Linked DNA regions of Homo sapiens. The protein of the gene in region 2 interacts with the protein of the main gene of each other region in a biochemical or structural test. Each region holds a gene or a part of one and is shown on either strand. Other genes may lie near its edges.

The links. Proteins that work in one complex are often made in the same cells at the same time.
Region 1: the proteins of ZYG11B (region 2) and ZNF701 interact in a test that uses a peptide from one of them, tested with the Homo sapiens proteins (2 studies listed by BioGRID, with this or other methods).

The regions. Positions count from the first base shown.
Region 1 is NC_000019.10:52,565,904-52,573,306, forward strand, and holds the start of ZNF701 (zinc finger protein 701), read left to right. Parts: upstream 1-4,383; 5' UTR 4,384-4,427; intron 4,428-4,760; exon of another isoform or gene 4,761-4,983; intron 4,984-6,333; exon of another isoform or gene 6,334-6,338; coding exon of another isoform or gene 6,339-6,465; intron 6,466-6,661; exon of another isoform or gene 6,662-6,775; intron 6,776-6,789; exon of another isoform or gene 6,790-7,307; intron 7,308-7,403. UniProt on the Homo sapiens protein: May be involved in transcriptional regulation.
Region 2 is NC_000001.11:52,722,057-52,729,457, forward strand, and holds the start of ZYG11B (protein zyg-11 homolog B), read left to right. Parts: upstream 1-4,396; 5' UTR 4,397-4,597; coding exon 4,598-4,627; intron 4,628-7,401. UniProt on the Homo sapiens protein: Serves as substrate adapter subunit in the E3 ubiquitin ligase complex ZYG11B-CUL2-Elongin BC. Acts to target substrates bearing N-terminal degrons for proteasomal degradation with the first four residues of substrates being the key recognition elements.

The DNA.
Region 1 (7,403 bases), on a different chromosome or scaffold from region 2:
CCTGAGGCTGTGTCATGGGTGCATTTTAACCTTGGCAAAATAGATTTCTAAATTCATTGAGACCTAGTAGATACTTTTGGATCACAAGCTCATGAACACAGAAAAGATCAAGATAGAATAAGGAAAAAATGAGTATAATGGAAAGCACAAATCAGTTCCAAAATCTCAACTCCTTCATATTTATTCACCATAGGGAAATGCTTTACAACTTTGTGGGATTAGAGTCCATTTGTGAAAGATTTTATATATATATATATAGTTTGTTTTGTTTTGTTTTTTGAGACGGAGTTTCAATCTTGTTGCCCAGGCTGGAGTGCAATGGTGCGATCTCGGATCACTGAAACCTCTGCCTCCCAGGTACTACGGATTCTCCTGTCTCAGCACCCCAAGTAGCTCAGATTACAGGCATGCATCACCATGCCCGGCTAATTCTTTTGTATTTAGTAGAGACTGGGTTTCATTATGTTAGTCAGGCTGGTCTTGAATTCCTGACCTCAGGTGATCCACCTGCCTCAGCCTCCCAAAGTGCTGAGATTACAGGTATGCGCCACTATGCTGGGCCAAAAGATATATTTCTAGTATTAGATTGAAATAAAAACCCATTCTATATAACTTTAGCTAATTTAAAACGCAAATAATAGATAATTACATAGATACACAAAACTTTATAATATTTCACTTAGTATTGCTATTACTATGTTCTTGGGGCAGAAGCTCAGTCTGTCAGATACATTACAAAAGGATGGTGTCTCCATAATTGTGCTTAGGACTCTGGTGCATAAGTGGATAAACTGTTAAACAGGATCCTAGGGGAGCTAGGGTGACAAAGTTCAAGTCCATTAAAACTAGCAACATACATTCCTTACTGCTCACGCATGACTCATGGTCTTAAGATGTTTACAGTTAAGAAAAGCAGCTTAATCATACCTGCAAGGACAAACTCCTACATAAACACAATGTCCAGATGACCCAATATCCCATGACAATGTATGCTTCTAAGCTAATTACAGTCATGCTTTCACGTACTTGCACACTAAAATACCAAGGATAGGTGTTTTTTTTTTTTTGATGGAGCTTCACTTTTGTCATCCAGGCTGGAGTGCAATAGGACAATCTCGGCTCATTGCAACTTCCACCTTCCGGGTTCAAGCGATTCTCCTGCCTCAGCCTCCTGAGTAGCTAGGATTACAGGCATGCACCACCACCCCCGGCTAATCGTTGAATTTTCAGTAGAGACGGGGTTTCATCACGTTCGCAAGGCTGGTCTCGAACCCCTGATCTCAGGTGATGCCCCCACGTCGGCCTTCCAAAGTGCCAGAATTACAGGCGGGAGCCAATGCAACCGGCCAAGGATAGCTTTAAATCAACAAAGTAATAAGTTTTGTTACACTGTCAGCCCACTGGCAGGTAGACATACCTTAGTTTTTACCTAAGCACCTATGTAAGAGAAACTTTAAGAGAAGGCAGTTCCCTTTGTTTTTGAGGTCGCCCTACTGTGTAACTGGTAGTTTTCTTTTTTTTTTCTTTTTTTTTTTAAGACGGAGTCTCGCTCAGGCTTGAGACACCTTGTCCAGCTGTATTTTTTATTATTATTATTATTATTATTATTATTATTATTATTATTATTATTTTGTTTTTGAGACTGAGTTTCACTCTAGTTCCCTGGGCTGGAGTACAATGTCATGATCATGGCTCACCACAGCTTCCATTTTCTGGGCTCAAGCGATTCTCCTGCCTCAGCCTCCGGAGTAGCTGGGACTACAGGCTCATGCCACCACTCCAGGCTAATTTTTATATTTGTAGTAGAGACGGGGTTTCTCTATATTGGTCAGGCTGGTCTCGAACTCCCGACCTCAGGCCATCCGCCGTCCTCAGCCTACCAAAGGGCTGGGATTACAGGCTTGAGCCACCGCGCCCGGCCTGAAGTAGAATATTTTAGAAAGTAATTAAACCTTTTTTCAGCATAATAACCCAGAGATGTACTTCTGAAGGACTTAGAATCTCTTCTTGAAAGGCAAGCAACAAGGGAGATAGTACCTGTAAGTCAGTAGGAAATTAAATATTTCAAACATCAGCTATTTCAAATTTAAAGCTACAGACTTTTAAATAATTCGGAACCTTGAGAGGAACGTGGTCATGCAACCTGAGTCCGGTGGCATGCAGGCGCAACTTCTACAAGTTTTCCTGGCCAGGCATGCAGGCTCAGGCCTGTAATCCCAGCACTCTGGGAGGCTGAGGCGGGCGGATCGCCTGACGTCAGGAATTAGAAACCAGCCTGGCCAACATGGGGAAACCCCGTCTCTACTGAAAATACAAAGCCATTAGCCGGGCATGGTGGCGCACGCCTGTATTTTCAGCTATTTGGGAGGCTGAGGCAGGAGAACTGCTTGAACCCAGGACGTGGAGGTCGTAGTGAGCCGAGATCACATCACTGCATTCCAGCCTGGGCGACAGAGCAGGACGCCTTCCCAAAACAAAACAAAACAAAACAAAATGTGCTATACAATTTAGTTTCCTAATATCAATTTTAAAAAGTTTTCGTGTAAATAATTAGGAAAACTAAGCAGCCCCAGAGATAAGACCTCCTGGCATCATTGTCCCTTCTTATGGAGTGATAATGTAACCTTCCTTGAAGTGTATCACTCCATCACCAGTCAAGCTGCCGCAGCCTATGCACTGGACTTGAATGGAAAATGTGGTGGTTCTGGGAAAGCTTCTCTGTATTTCCTTGTGTGTGTGAAATGTTAATGTCTCTACTTGGGAACGCTGACCCCATTCATTTGGAGTTGAGGTTTCCAGGTGGCTATTCTCATGCTTTGTGTCCAAATAAACTCTATAATTAATAATGTATTCTAAATTTCATTATTTACTGCTGACATCAGTTTCTGTTGGATTGTAGGAGCCTCACCAGAGAGGGCACCTGTCCGCCATGCTGTAAAACTCACACTTGCCAAAAATACATGGGTTAGGGTTTCTCCCCCTCCCTCAGGATGATGCTAGTTAGCTGACACAGATGGTCACCTCCATTACCAAGTAGAGCCAGGATGAATTATGTGTGACCAAGGGTGTTGTCAAGTCCTCTTCCCTGAGGACTGATCAGTGTTTATCTTGAAAACATGTATTTGGGTTGTATAGAACAGTGAAGTTTCTTTCTCTCTTTTCAACCTCTCAACTGTCCTCTATTTCCCATCACATGCTGGTCTAAGGCCTATTTATTAATAAAATAGTTTTTATTTCTTTCTCTGTTATCGTCGTGAAGATGATTTCTCATTTAGGGGAAGATTTTTTTAGTTTTCAATTGTATTTTCTCAACATTTAAGAGCGAAGTGAAGAGTATTTCTTGGGCCAGGCACAGTGGTTCACGCCTGTAATCCCAGCATTTCAGGAGGCCGAGGCAGGCGGATCACTTGAAGTCAGGAGTTCGAGACCAGCCTGGCCAACATGGTGAAACCCCGTCTCTACCCAAAATACAAAAATTAGCCGGGCATGGTGGCCTGTGCCTGTAATGCCAGCTATTCCGGAGGCTGAGGCAGGAGAATCGCTTCAACCCAGGAGGCAGAGGCTGCAGTGAGCCGAGATGTCACCACTGCACTCCAGCCTGAGCGACAGAGAAATACTCCGTCTTAAAAAAAAAAAGAAAAGAAAAAAAAGAAAGTAATAGATCTCTTCCACAAATGTGCTGGGACAATTAACTGGATATCCACATGGAAAAGAATAATGTTGTATCCCTATCTCACACAATCAAAATTTTATTTTAAAAATTAAAAGAGACGATGAGGGGAGCCCTGCGGGAGGGTGTGTTACTTTGTCGCCCAGGCTGGCCTGGACCCCCAGGCTCAGTGATCCTCCCGCCTCTGGCCCTCAGGCTCCCGCCCACCTGGCCGCATTCCTGCTATGTTTAAGCAGTAGGTGGTGACTTCACTCCTCCCTGGCCTGAACACTCCGTCGCGCATCCCAGGCGGAGGCCCTAGGGAAGTCTCTGAAGCTGAGCACAGGGTGGACTCTCCCTCCTGAGTGAATGGAGAATAGAAAGGGAGAGGATTTCTGTTCTGTTCTGTGGGCCGTCAGCATGAAATTGTACGTTCCGCCCAGGCAGGGCTTTGCATTTTACATTCTTGTTTGCATCCCCGTTCCAGACAATTCCAGGGCTTTCGAATCGTGCTTCAGCCTTCCTGACCGCTCTCGCCTCCAAAGCCCGAAAAATAGAGTCGCTGGGAGCGAGGCTGAGAGACGCACAGGTCCCGCCCCGGCCCCGCCCTCTGCCGGTTCTAAAGGGCAAGGTCTCTCCGCCTGGGGCCCCGCCTCTACCTCGATCAGGCCCCGCCCACCTTCTCGTTGGCTCCACCCAGGCCTGGCTTTAGTCCTGTGCGCACACATCCGCGCAGACCAGGAAGCGGATCCCGTGGAGTGAAGGTCGCACCGCGGCGGTGAGTTTTGCTCTGTGTTGTATTAAGTCTGCACTCCCCATATCCCCGGCACTTCCGTACCTGGGACGTGGGGTCACCACAGACCTGTAAATTCTCGCCCATCTTCCTTCAACCAGAGCAAATGCAGACGTTCCCCTGGGAATCCGGAAGTCGCTTCCTTTTGTGTTTAAAGTCGCCCTGAGGCTGTTCCCGTCTCCAGTCTTTCTGCTACAGGGCGCTGTATACACTTCCTATCGCGTAGTTTCTGTGCTCAAAACCGTTTTTTAACTCCTCCCTCCCCGCGCTTTTCAAAGTCCTCACCCGAGATGTGTATTTCCGCCTGGGCGCCTCCCAGTCTCAACCTTTAGGCGCCTGAAGCGCAAACGTCGCGATCCCAGTCTCAGGGAGGCCGAGTTCTCTGCCTGGTGCTGGGATCTTGTGGACCCCACCGAAGGCGTCGTCGCACCCCACCTCCCGCCTCATGCTGGGCCTTGCTGCACCCCAAGTCTCCCCTTAGCAGTCACCACTTTCCTTGAGCCAGCGTTGGGGAGGTGCCAGGGGCCAGTCCTGTGACACGGTGTGTTCTTGCCTGCCTAGCTCCAACCCCTGAAAAATGAGCCTCTCTGGGATGCAGGCGTCTTACTTCAAACCCTCCTGTGATTGTGTGGGCTAAAGAGATCAGGAGACAGAGAGTAGTAGAAAACCTGAGACAGAGAAAAGAAGAATGAGAAAGACCCATAACAGATGGCAAAGTAGAGGATGGGTGAGGGATTTGCCAAGAGACAGCAAAAGTGAAAAAAAAAAGATAAGAAAGCAGGAGGAGAAAAGCAACTGGAGAAATGTAGAGAAAAGCTAGATGTACAGAGAGATGAAGGACAGACAGCAAGGTAGAGAGGGGCAGCAAAGAGGGAGGCTCATCAGAGTGAGAGAGAGAGAGAGAGAGAGGAGGAATTTGGAGCCAGGGCAGACAGAGCAGAGTGGTGCTGGTGGCAAGGAGAACAGAGGGAGAACCACAGCAGGGAGGACGCCTGGGGATCTGGGGTGCTAGAGAGTGGGGACGGGGGGTAAAACAGAGAAGAGAGAATTTAACAGGGAGAGCGGCAGAGATGCAGAGATGGGATAAGAGGCGGAAATATATGGAGATTGAGGACGATCGAAGAATTGGGGAGAAGGAGCAACAAGAGATTAAATAAGACGTGAGGATGGAGCCCAGGTAATTTTTGTATTTTTAGTAGAGACGGGGTTTCACCATGTTGGCCAGGCTGGTCTCGAACTCCTGACCTCAGGTGATCCACCCGCCTCGACCTCCCAAAGTGTTGGAATTACAGGCGTGAGCCACCGCACCTGGCCACCCAAGCATTCTTGATTGAAAAAGTTTGCTTATGTCTTAGTTCTACAGCTGACCCTCTTTCCCTGCTTTTTGTTTGTTTGTTTGCTTGTTTGTTTTGAGATGCACTTTCGCTCTTGTTGCCCAGGCTGGAGTGCAATGGTGTGATCTTGGGTCACCGCAACCCTTTTTGGTTTTTTTTTTGAGACGGAGTTTCGCTCTTGTTGCCCGTGCTGGAGTGCAATGGTGCGATCTCGGCTCACTGCAACCTCCACCTCCCGAGTTCAAGCGAGTCTCCTGCCTCAGCCTCCCTAGTAGCTGGGATTACAGGCATGTGCCACCACACCAGGCTAATTTTGTATTTTTAGTAGAGATGGGGTTTCTCCATATTGGTCAGGTTGGTCTTGAACTCCTGACCTCAGGTGATCTGCCCACCTCGGCTTCCCAAAGTGCTGGGATTATAGGCATGAGCCACCGAGCCCGGCCTACTCACCACCACCTTTACCTCCCGGTTTTAAGCGATTGTCCTGCCTCGGCCTTCCTGAGTAGCTGGAATTACAGGCAAGTGCCACAACATCTAGATAATTTTTGTATTTTTAGTAGAGATGGGGTTTCTCCATGTTGGTCAGGATGGTCTCGAACTCCCGACATCAGGTGATCCGCCTGCCTCGGCCTCCCAAAGTGCTGGGATTACAGGTGTGAGCCACCGCACTCAGCCTCCCTGTTTTGAAGGTAACTAGCTGTGTCTTTGTACATCTGCATTTTATAAATGTTACTGTAATTTTCTTGTGAGGAAGAATTAAATGTTGGGAATCAGTGGCATCAGAACTTGCAAAGGAAGTTTCTTTATCCCAGGTATGTGAAAGAGGCTTCTCTAATTTTCAAGGATAGTTTTGATAAGGCCAACCCTTTCCTTTATCCCTTCCAGGCCACCATGTAAGAATTCCGTTACATCTTTTCACTCATCTCAGACCTTCTCAGCGTGACTCGGTGAAAATGTCCCCGTTCTGAGGATGTCACAGCTAAATCTAAAGCAGATCATGTCAGTCCCTGGCAGGGAACCCTCCATGGGCTTCCTGTGTTCCCCAGGACAAAAGCCCAACTCCTCACTGTCACTCCACAGCCCTGTGTCCAGGGCCCCTGCCACTGTCCAGGCTCCTCCTGGGAACTTGCCCTCATCTCATGACTCCCTCTGCCCCAGTCACATTTGCTTTTCTCTTTTCCCAAACATCAAAACCCTTCCCGTCTCAGGTCATTTTCACTGCTCTTACCCTATTTCTCTAAATGCTCACAGCACTGTCCCTTTCTCCTTCAGGTCCTGGCTCAGAAATGTCTCCCATGCCCTCCCACCCCCAACTGAATTTCCCTCTGCCCATCAGTCTCTATCACATTACTCAGGTTTTATTATCTCTGTGTCAGTCACATCAGAAACACACTTTTTTTCTTTTTCCAAAGAGTCTCGCTCTGTCCTCCAGGCTGTGAGTGCAGTCTTGTGATCTTGGCTCACTGCAACCTTTGTCTCCTGAGTTCAAGCAATTCTTGTGCCTTAGTCTCCCAAGTAGCTGAGATTACAGGTGTGTGCCACCATACTCTGCTAATTTTTGTATTTGTATTTTATTTTATTTTTGAGTCTTACTCTGTTGCCCTGGCTGGAGTCCAGTGGTGCGATC
Region 2 (7,401 bases):
ATGTCTATCCAGTTATTCTAACACCAAATACAATTCCAACTTTTGCTTTCTGACTTGAAATGCTACCTTCAGTATTATACTAAATTCCTAGGTAATTTGGATGTATTTTTGATCTGTTTGTGCTTCATTGATTGCAAATCAAGCAAATCAACTGTGACTCCATTCTTTCTTGATTGCAGAACTCTTATTTATTTATTTATTTTTGGAGATAGGGTCTTACTCTGTCACACAGGCTGGAGTGCAGTGGCGTGATGATGCCTCATAGCAGCCTCGACCTCCAGGGCTCAGGTGATCCTCCCACCTCAGTCTCTTGAGTAGCTGAAACTACCACCATGCCCAGCTACTTTTTGGTATTTTTTTGTAGAGATGGGATTTTGCCATTTTGCCCAGGCTGGTCTCAAACTTTTGGTCTCAAACCATCTGCCTGCCTTGGCCTCCCAAAGTGCTGGGATTACAAGTGTGAACCACCTTGGCTGGCTAGAACTCTAATTTTTTTTTCTTTCTTTTTTTTTTTTTTTTTTTTTGAGAAGGAGTCCCTCTCTGTCGCCCAGGCTGGAGTGCAATGGAGTGATCTTGGCTCACTGCAACTTCCGCCTGCCGGGTTCAAGCGAGTCTCCTGCCTCAGCTTCCTGAGTAGCTGGGACTACAGGTGCGCACCGCTACACCCAGCTAATTTCTTTTGTATTTTTAGTAGAGATGGAGTTTCACCATGTTGGCCGGGCTGGTCTTGATCTCCTAACCTCATGATCCACCCACCTCAGCCTCCTAAAATGCTGGGATTACAGGCCTGAGCCACCACACCCAGCCCAGAACTCTAATTTTTAATGACGATTTTCCTCCACTACAAGGAAGTCCTTAGGGAAAGTAACTCACAGATCAGACGGAGAGTAAATCATGATTGGTCTAAGCTACTATTGTTGGTCCTATTCTCTTTGGTATTTATTGGCTTATCCATGGTACTTGAGGGGAAGTCTATTGAGTAACTACTAAGAAAAATTGTAGCTTACTAGACATATAAGGGGATATGTTTAGCTGGCAGTTAGATATTTAAGTATGAAATTCAGAATGCAGATATAATTTTGGGGTTATCACAGCATAGATAATATTTAAAGTAATGTGTTGGGATAAGATTATCAAGGAGTGTACATGCAAAAGACAAAAAGTCGAAATATTGAGCCTTGGGGTACTACAGTATTTAGAGGTCAGAGAAATGAGGAGAAACTAGGAGCAGCCAGTGAGATAGAAGACCCGAGGGGGTGAAATGTCATGGTAGCCAAGGAGGGGGAAGTAATGAGCTGTGTCTAGTGATGTTGGTAGGTCAAGTAACACGAGGACTGAGAATTGACTGGTGTCAGCAAATGGACACCACTAGTGACCTTGACAAGGGCATTTCAGTGGAGTGGAGGAGGTAAAAGCTTAACCAGAGAGGATCTCACCGAAAATGAGAAAAAGGAAGTCAAGGCCAGGCGAGGTGGCTCATGCCTGTAATCTCAGCATTTTGGGAGGCCAAGGCAGGCAGATTGCTTGAGCTCAGGAGTTCAAGACCAGCCTAGGCAACATGATGAAACCTCATCTCCACAAAAAATACAAAAATTAGTTGGACGTGGTGGCACATGCCTGTAGTTCCAGCTACTTGGGAGGCTGAAGTGGGAGGATTGCTTGAACCCAGGAGGCTAAGGTTGCAGTGAGCTGAGATCGCACCACTGCACTCCAGCCTAAGCAACAGAGTGAGACCATGTACAAGCCACCTTTGTGAGACATTTTGCAGAAAAGAGAATGGAGAAATGGGGCAGTAGGTGGGGGGTCAAGTCCAGTCAAGAGAGGGTTTTTTTTTTTTTTTTGAGGTGGAGTCTCGCTCTGTTGCCCAGGCTAGAGTGCAGTGGCGTGATCTTGGCTCACTGCAACCTAAGGAGGGTTTTTTTGTTTGATTGTTTTAAGATGGAAGAAATAAAATCATGTTGCTATAGCAATGAGAGGTAATAGCAGAAAAATAGCGATGTAGGTGAGAGGAAGAATTGCTGGATAGGTGTCTTTGAGAAAGTGACGTGGTATGAGACCTAGTACTTGAGCTCCTCAAAGTGTCATCAATGGACTAGTGACCATCTAGAAATGGTTTTTCACCAGTTTGTGACAGCAATTCAGAATTAATATTTTGAAACTTTTATAACAATTTGACAGAAAAATGTTACGCGTGTTGGGTTTAATAATAAAAATTCTGCCTAGAGTAGTCAAATTCATAGAGATAGAAAGCAGAACAGTGATGGCGAGGGATTGGGGGAAGTTAGGAATGGGGAGTTATTGTTTAATGAGTACAAGCTTTCAGCTTTGCAAGATAAAAAAGTTCTGGAGGCCTGGCACATTGGCTCACGTCTGTAATCCTAGCACTTTAGAAGTCTGTGGCAGGAGGATTACTTGAGCCTAGGAGTTTGAGACAAACCTGGGCAACACAGTGAGACCTTGTCTCTACAAAAAAAAAAAAAAAAAAAGGTAGCCAGGCGTGGTGGTATGTGCCTGTAGTTCTAGCTGCTTAGGAGGCTGAGGTGGGAGGATCGCTTCAGCCCAGGAGTTTGAGGCTGAGTGAGCCGTGATTGTGCCACTGTACTCCTGATGGGTGACAGGGTAAGAACTTGTCTCAATAAATAAATAAATAAATAAATAAAAGAAAAAATAAAAAGTTCTGGAGCTTCTTGATGGGGATGGTTGCACAACAATGTGAATGTATTTAATACCATTGAACTGTACACTTTAAAATGGTTAAGCAGGTTTAAAAAATCTGGGCTTGCATTTTGGATGCTTGTTTTTAAATTTTAATTTTTTCTAGTAATTAATTTTGATTGTATTTTACAGAAATTTAGTTTTGTGATTGGGGATAAAATCTGGGTCTTTTAGCACAGATGCTTGAGAACTGAGGAGGATTTGATGTTAGCTAAAAGACAAATAATTAACTTGTAGTAAGGAAAGGAAGGCAGAGAGAGCATCAAAGCAGAGTTACAGGTTCGTTGGAAGTCATGGTGGGTGCTGGGAACTTGTAGATGTTCTTTTTGGTTTGTTTGATTTTCTTGTGAATTAGAAGCAAAATCATCAGCTAAATGAGATGAGGGAGGAAGTGTCGGAGGTTTGAAGAGACAGGAGACTTGAAATAGTTATGTAGCAAGGTGGGAGAGTGTGTGAAACTGGAGAAATGTGGTAGGGTAGCCACTCATTATGGCCTCTTGAGAATAATGATCTCAAATTTACGGGGAGTCAGTCAACCACTTTTGGCTTTTTCTCCACCCACTCCATTGCTGGAGTTCTGTCAGTACAAAGAAAGCAGAGAACGACTAGAGAAATGAAGGTAATACTGAAGAAATCGACTTCATGTACCTCATGTACTCACTTTCTTCCCCAAACAGCTTAGATTCTATTAGATTCCATTTCATGACGGACGATAGAATCTAAGCTGTTTCAGGAAGAAAGTGAGTACATAAGGCCAGCGTGGGGAGGAATAGCGAAAAGGTAGTTGGATCAATGGATTTGGGGTCTTGGAGTTGAAGTTTTTGGAGTTGGAGTATTATCAGACAGAGTGAGCTAGAAAGGAAGAAGGTTGTGGCCGGGCGCAGCGGCTCACGCCTGTAATCCCAGCACTTTGGAAGGCCAAGGCAAGCGGATCACCTGAGGTCAGGAGTTCGAGACCAGCCTGGCCAACATGGTGAAGCCACTTCTCTACTAAAAATACAAAAATTAGCCGGGTGTGGTGCCGGGTGTTTGTAATCCCAGCTACTCGGGAGGCTAAGGCAGGAGAATCACTTGAACCCGGGAGGTGGAGGTTGCAGTGAGCCAAGATCGCACCACTGCACTCCAGCCTGGGCAACAAGAGCGAAACTCCATCTCAAAAAAAAAAAAAAAAAAGAAAGAAAGAAAGAAAGAAAGAAAGGAAGAAGGTTGCAATGGGAGTTAGAGGATTAAAATTGAGATTGTAGAGAAGTTACAATTATTCGTATGAGCATGAGAGTGAGAGGCTGAGCCAAGAATGATCCCTAGAGAAGAATCTGAGAGGCCAGAGGATTGGAAGAATTAAGCGAATTTTGAAATAACCAAGAGTTATGACAATAGTAGTAATGAATGACAGTGAACCAGAAGCCCAAATCTTAGAGAATGATGGTGAATGACAGAGGAGTCTATAGGTGACCGAAGTGAGCGATGCTCTAATCTCTCGTCATGATGTAATATTTAAAGCTTTTCATATTTTGAAGGGATGCTAGGATTTGGGGGTGTGTGGCTCCTTTAAGGGCCTGGGAGGGGGAGAAGCTGGAGGTCGGGCTGGGGGGGGCGGGACCCCCTCGTCTGAGTCTGCGCATTGAGAGCGGAGGCGGGTCCAGGCGCGGGCTCGCGCGCCCGGGCGGGTCCTCGCGGGGGCGGAGTCTGCGCTCTGGTTCGGGCTGCGGCTGCGGCTGCGGCTGCGGCTGCTACTGCTACGCTCCTAGCTTGAGGGAAAGAGGCCGAGGCCTGGGCCAAGCCCGGAGCCGCCGCTCGCCGGAGCCTCCTGGAGCCTCCGCGCCGGCTCAGCCTGGGGGCGGGCTCCGGTCCGGCCCGCCGCCGCACCCAGGACGGAGGCTGCATGCCCGAGGACCAGGCCGGCGCAGCCATGGTGAGGGAGCAAGGCCTGCCCTAGCCGCAGCCGCCCGCCACCCTAGCCCCCGCCCGTCGCGCTGGCCCCTGCGGTCTTGCCCCTCCCTGTCTCTGGTGTCCCCTCGGGCTCCCTGCCTTTACCTCTCTCCCTCGTTACCGCCCCCTCGGTGTTCAGCTCCTCCTTCCCCATTCACCTGCTTCGGTGAACCCCTTTAGGTGACACCCCCTGAATCTCCCTTCTCCCCGATGACATCCTTTTTATCACCCCCAGTGACAGCCTTTTTCGCATTCCCTTTGTCGCCCACTCCTTGTCCTTTAACCCTAACCCTTCCTTTCTTTCTCCTCTATCATTTTGCCTTTTTTCCTCTTATGTGATTTTTACTTTCCCCCCTTTCCTCCCTAGTTTTCGCTGCTCTTCCTTGCTCTTCTCACCCCTCTTCACCATTTTATCTCCACTGCCCCCTTCTCTCCGTGTTCCTTCTCCCCTTCGTCCTCTTCCATCCACGTTTCCTCTTCCCTTATCGGATGTCCTCGCTCGGTTCGCCGTCGCAGCTGTCCCCATTTCCTTCTACGGGCTTCAGGGGTCTAAGCAGGAACAATTTGAGGACTGTTGCTTCCCGGGAGCTGTAGGGCGGGCAGATAGGGATTTATAGGTTTGCTTCTTCCTTTTCGTTTTTGGAGGCATTGAAGAGATCCTGGAAGCCTATTCACCTAGTGTCATTGCAAAATCGAAGTGGTGGTGTGTTACAGAGCAGTGAAGTGAGGGCCAGCATGCATACTGTGACCTCAGGAGAGATCTAGTCTTTTGACAGAAATAGCTAAAAAATGTTTTGAATTTTTTTTATTTTGAGCATCTTTTAATGTGGAGGTGCAGTTGGAGAAGTTTAAAAATACTTATTTACAAGCTTGGCTATTATTACTAAAAACAAATGATTTGTTTTCATTTGGAGGCAGAGACCAAGGGCATTTGAGGACTGACAATCAGGTTGGCAGGTTGTGACAGTCTCTTTAAACCTTCTAAAGAGTTCATTTGTTTTGCCCTGTCTGCCTTTAGTTGGGAGAACCTTATATTTGCAAATTTTCTTTCTGTCTGAAAATAGGTTGAGGCTTCAGTTGGTTTTTTCATTGAGTTGGGTTATAAGTGGTTTGCTGTACATTTATTGAAAACATTGCTCCATCATATGCAACAAGCTAAATTTTGGTCTCTGGGAGGAATAAGGCAAAACTAAGTCCTGATAATTATGTTCCCCTAGGAGGTTAGTCAGTTTCTTTTTTTCCCTCCAGCAGTTTTTTAGAAAAGTAATATACTATAAAATTATTTAATCTATGAATTTTCCCTAACTCACTCCTGCATTTTTAGTCTGTCATTTTCCTGTGTTTGTCTCCTTCACTTTCACACACTGTTGTTGTATGCTAACCTGTTTCTCCCTGTGGAATGTAAGTTCTAGGTAGCAACCGTTCCTTACTTATTATTCCAAGTGCCCAGGCCAGCTAGGTGCTTGAATGATTCACTTTATGGTCTCATTTCCCACCTGACTAATATAAACTTAAACTGAAATTTGAGGTAACTAGTGGACTACACAGAAAGAGTGAGTTTGAGAATTGTTGTTTGGAGACGATCTTGCTCTGTGGCCCAGGCTGGAATGCAGTGGCACAATCATGGCTCTTTGCAACCTTGAACTCCTGAGGTCAAGTGATCTTCCCACCTCAGCCTCACAAGTAGCTGGTACCACAGGCACGGACTACCGTGCCCCGCTAATTTGTAAAACTTTTTGTAGAAATGGAGTCTTGCTGTGTTGCCCAGTCTGGTCTTGACCTCCTGGATTCAAGCCATCCTCCCACCTTGGCCTCCCAAAGTGCTAGAATTACAGGCATGAGCCATCACGCCTGGGCAGAGAATCTTAATTTTGATGCAAAAATGATATTGAGTGAGGTATGATGATATACTTTTCAGAATAAAGAGCTATCCTACCTAAGACATTACACTGCTAGATTTTTGAAAGTGTGGGCCCTTCCATTGAGAATGAATGTATGAGAGGGAGGAGTTATGAACTCCCCTTTGAGGTATTTAGGATCTAAAAGTGTCCTTTGAGCTGGGCCTGAAAGTTGAATAGGATTTATATAGATCATTTTGGGAAGGGGAAGAATGCCTCATTGTGAATGTGAGTAGCAAGTAGAAAGGATCCCCTCACAGGGATTTTTTTTTTTTTAAGAAAGAAAGTAGGAAGGAATTAGGATGCATTGTAGGAAGTAGTATTACCCTTATATAGCATGGAAGGATGCAAGAATGGAGATGTGTAGTAGGAAATGAGGCTAGCAAGATACTGTCTTAGCCCATTCAATCTACTGTAACAAAATACCATAAACTAGGTAGCTTGTCAGCAACAGAAATTTATTTCTCAGAGTTTGGAAGGCTGGGAAGTCCAAAATCAGTTCCCCAGTGGATTCAGTGTCTCGTGAGGGCTCTTCCTAAGTCACCTTTTCACTGTTTTCACACATGGTGGCAGGGGCCAGGCAGCTCTCTGGAGTCTCTTTTATAAGGGCACTAATCCCATTCATGTGGGCACTAACTGGTGATCTAATCACCTCCCAAAGGCCCCACCTCCTCATACCATTACCTTGGGGGTTAGGATTCCAACATATGAATTTAGGGAGACAGAATTCAGACCACAGCAGACATATTAGGCATGATTATGTTTTAAACTTTGCATCTAATTAACTTGATTTTTCCTTGCTTGTTAAAACATATACACACAGAGTAACAGTGTATGTATGGGAGAGGTGAGGAGAAGG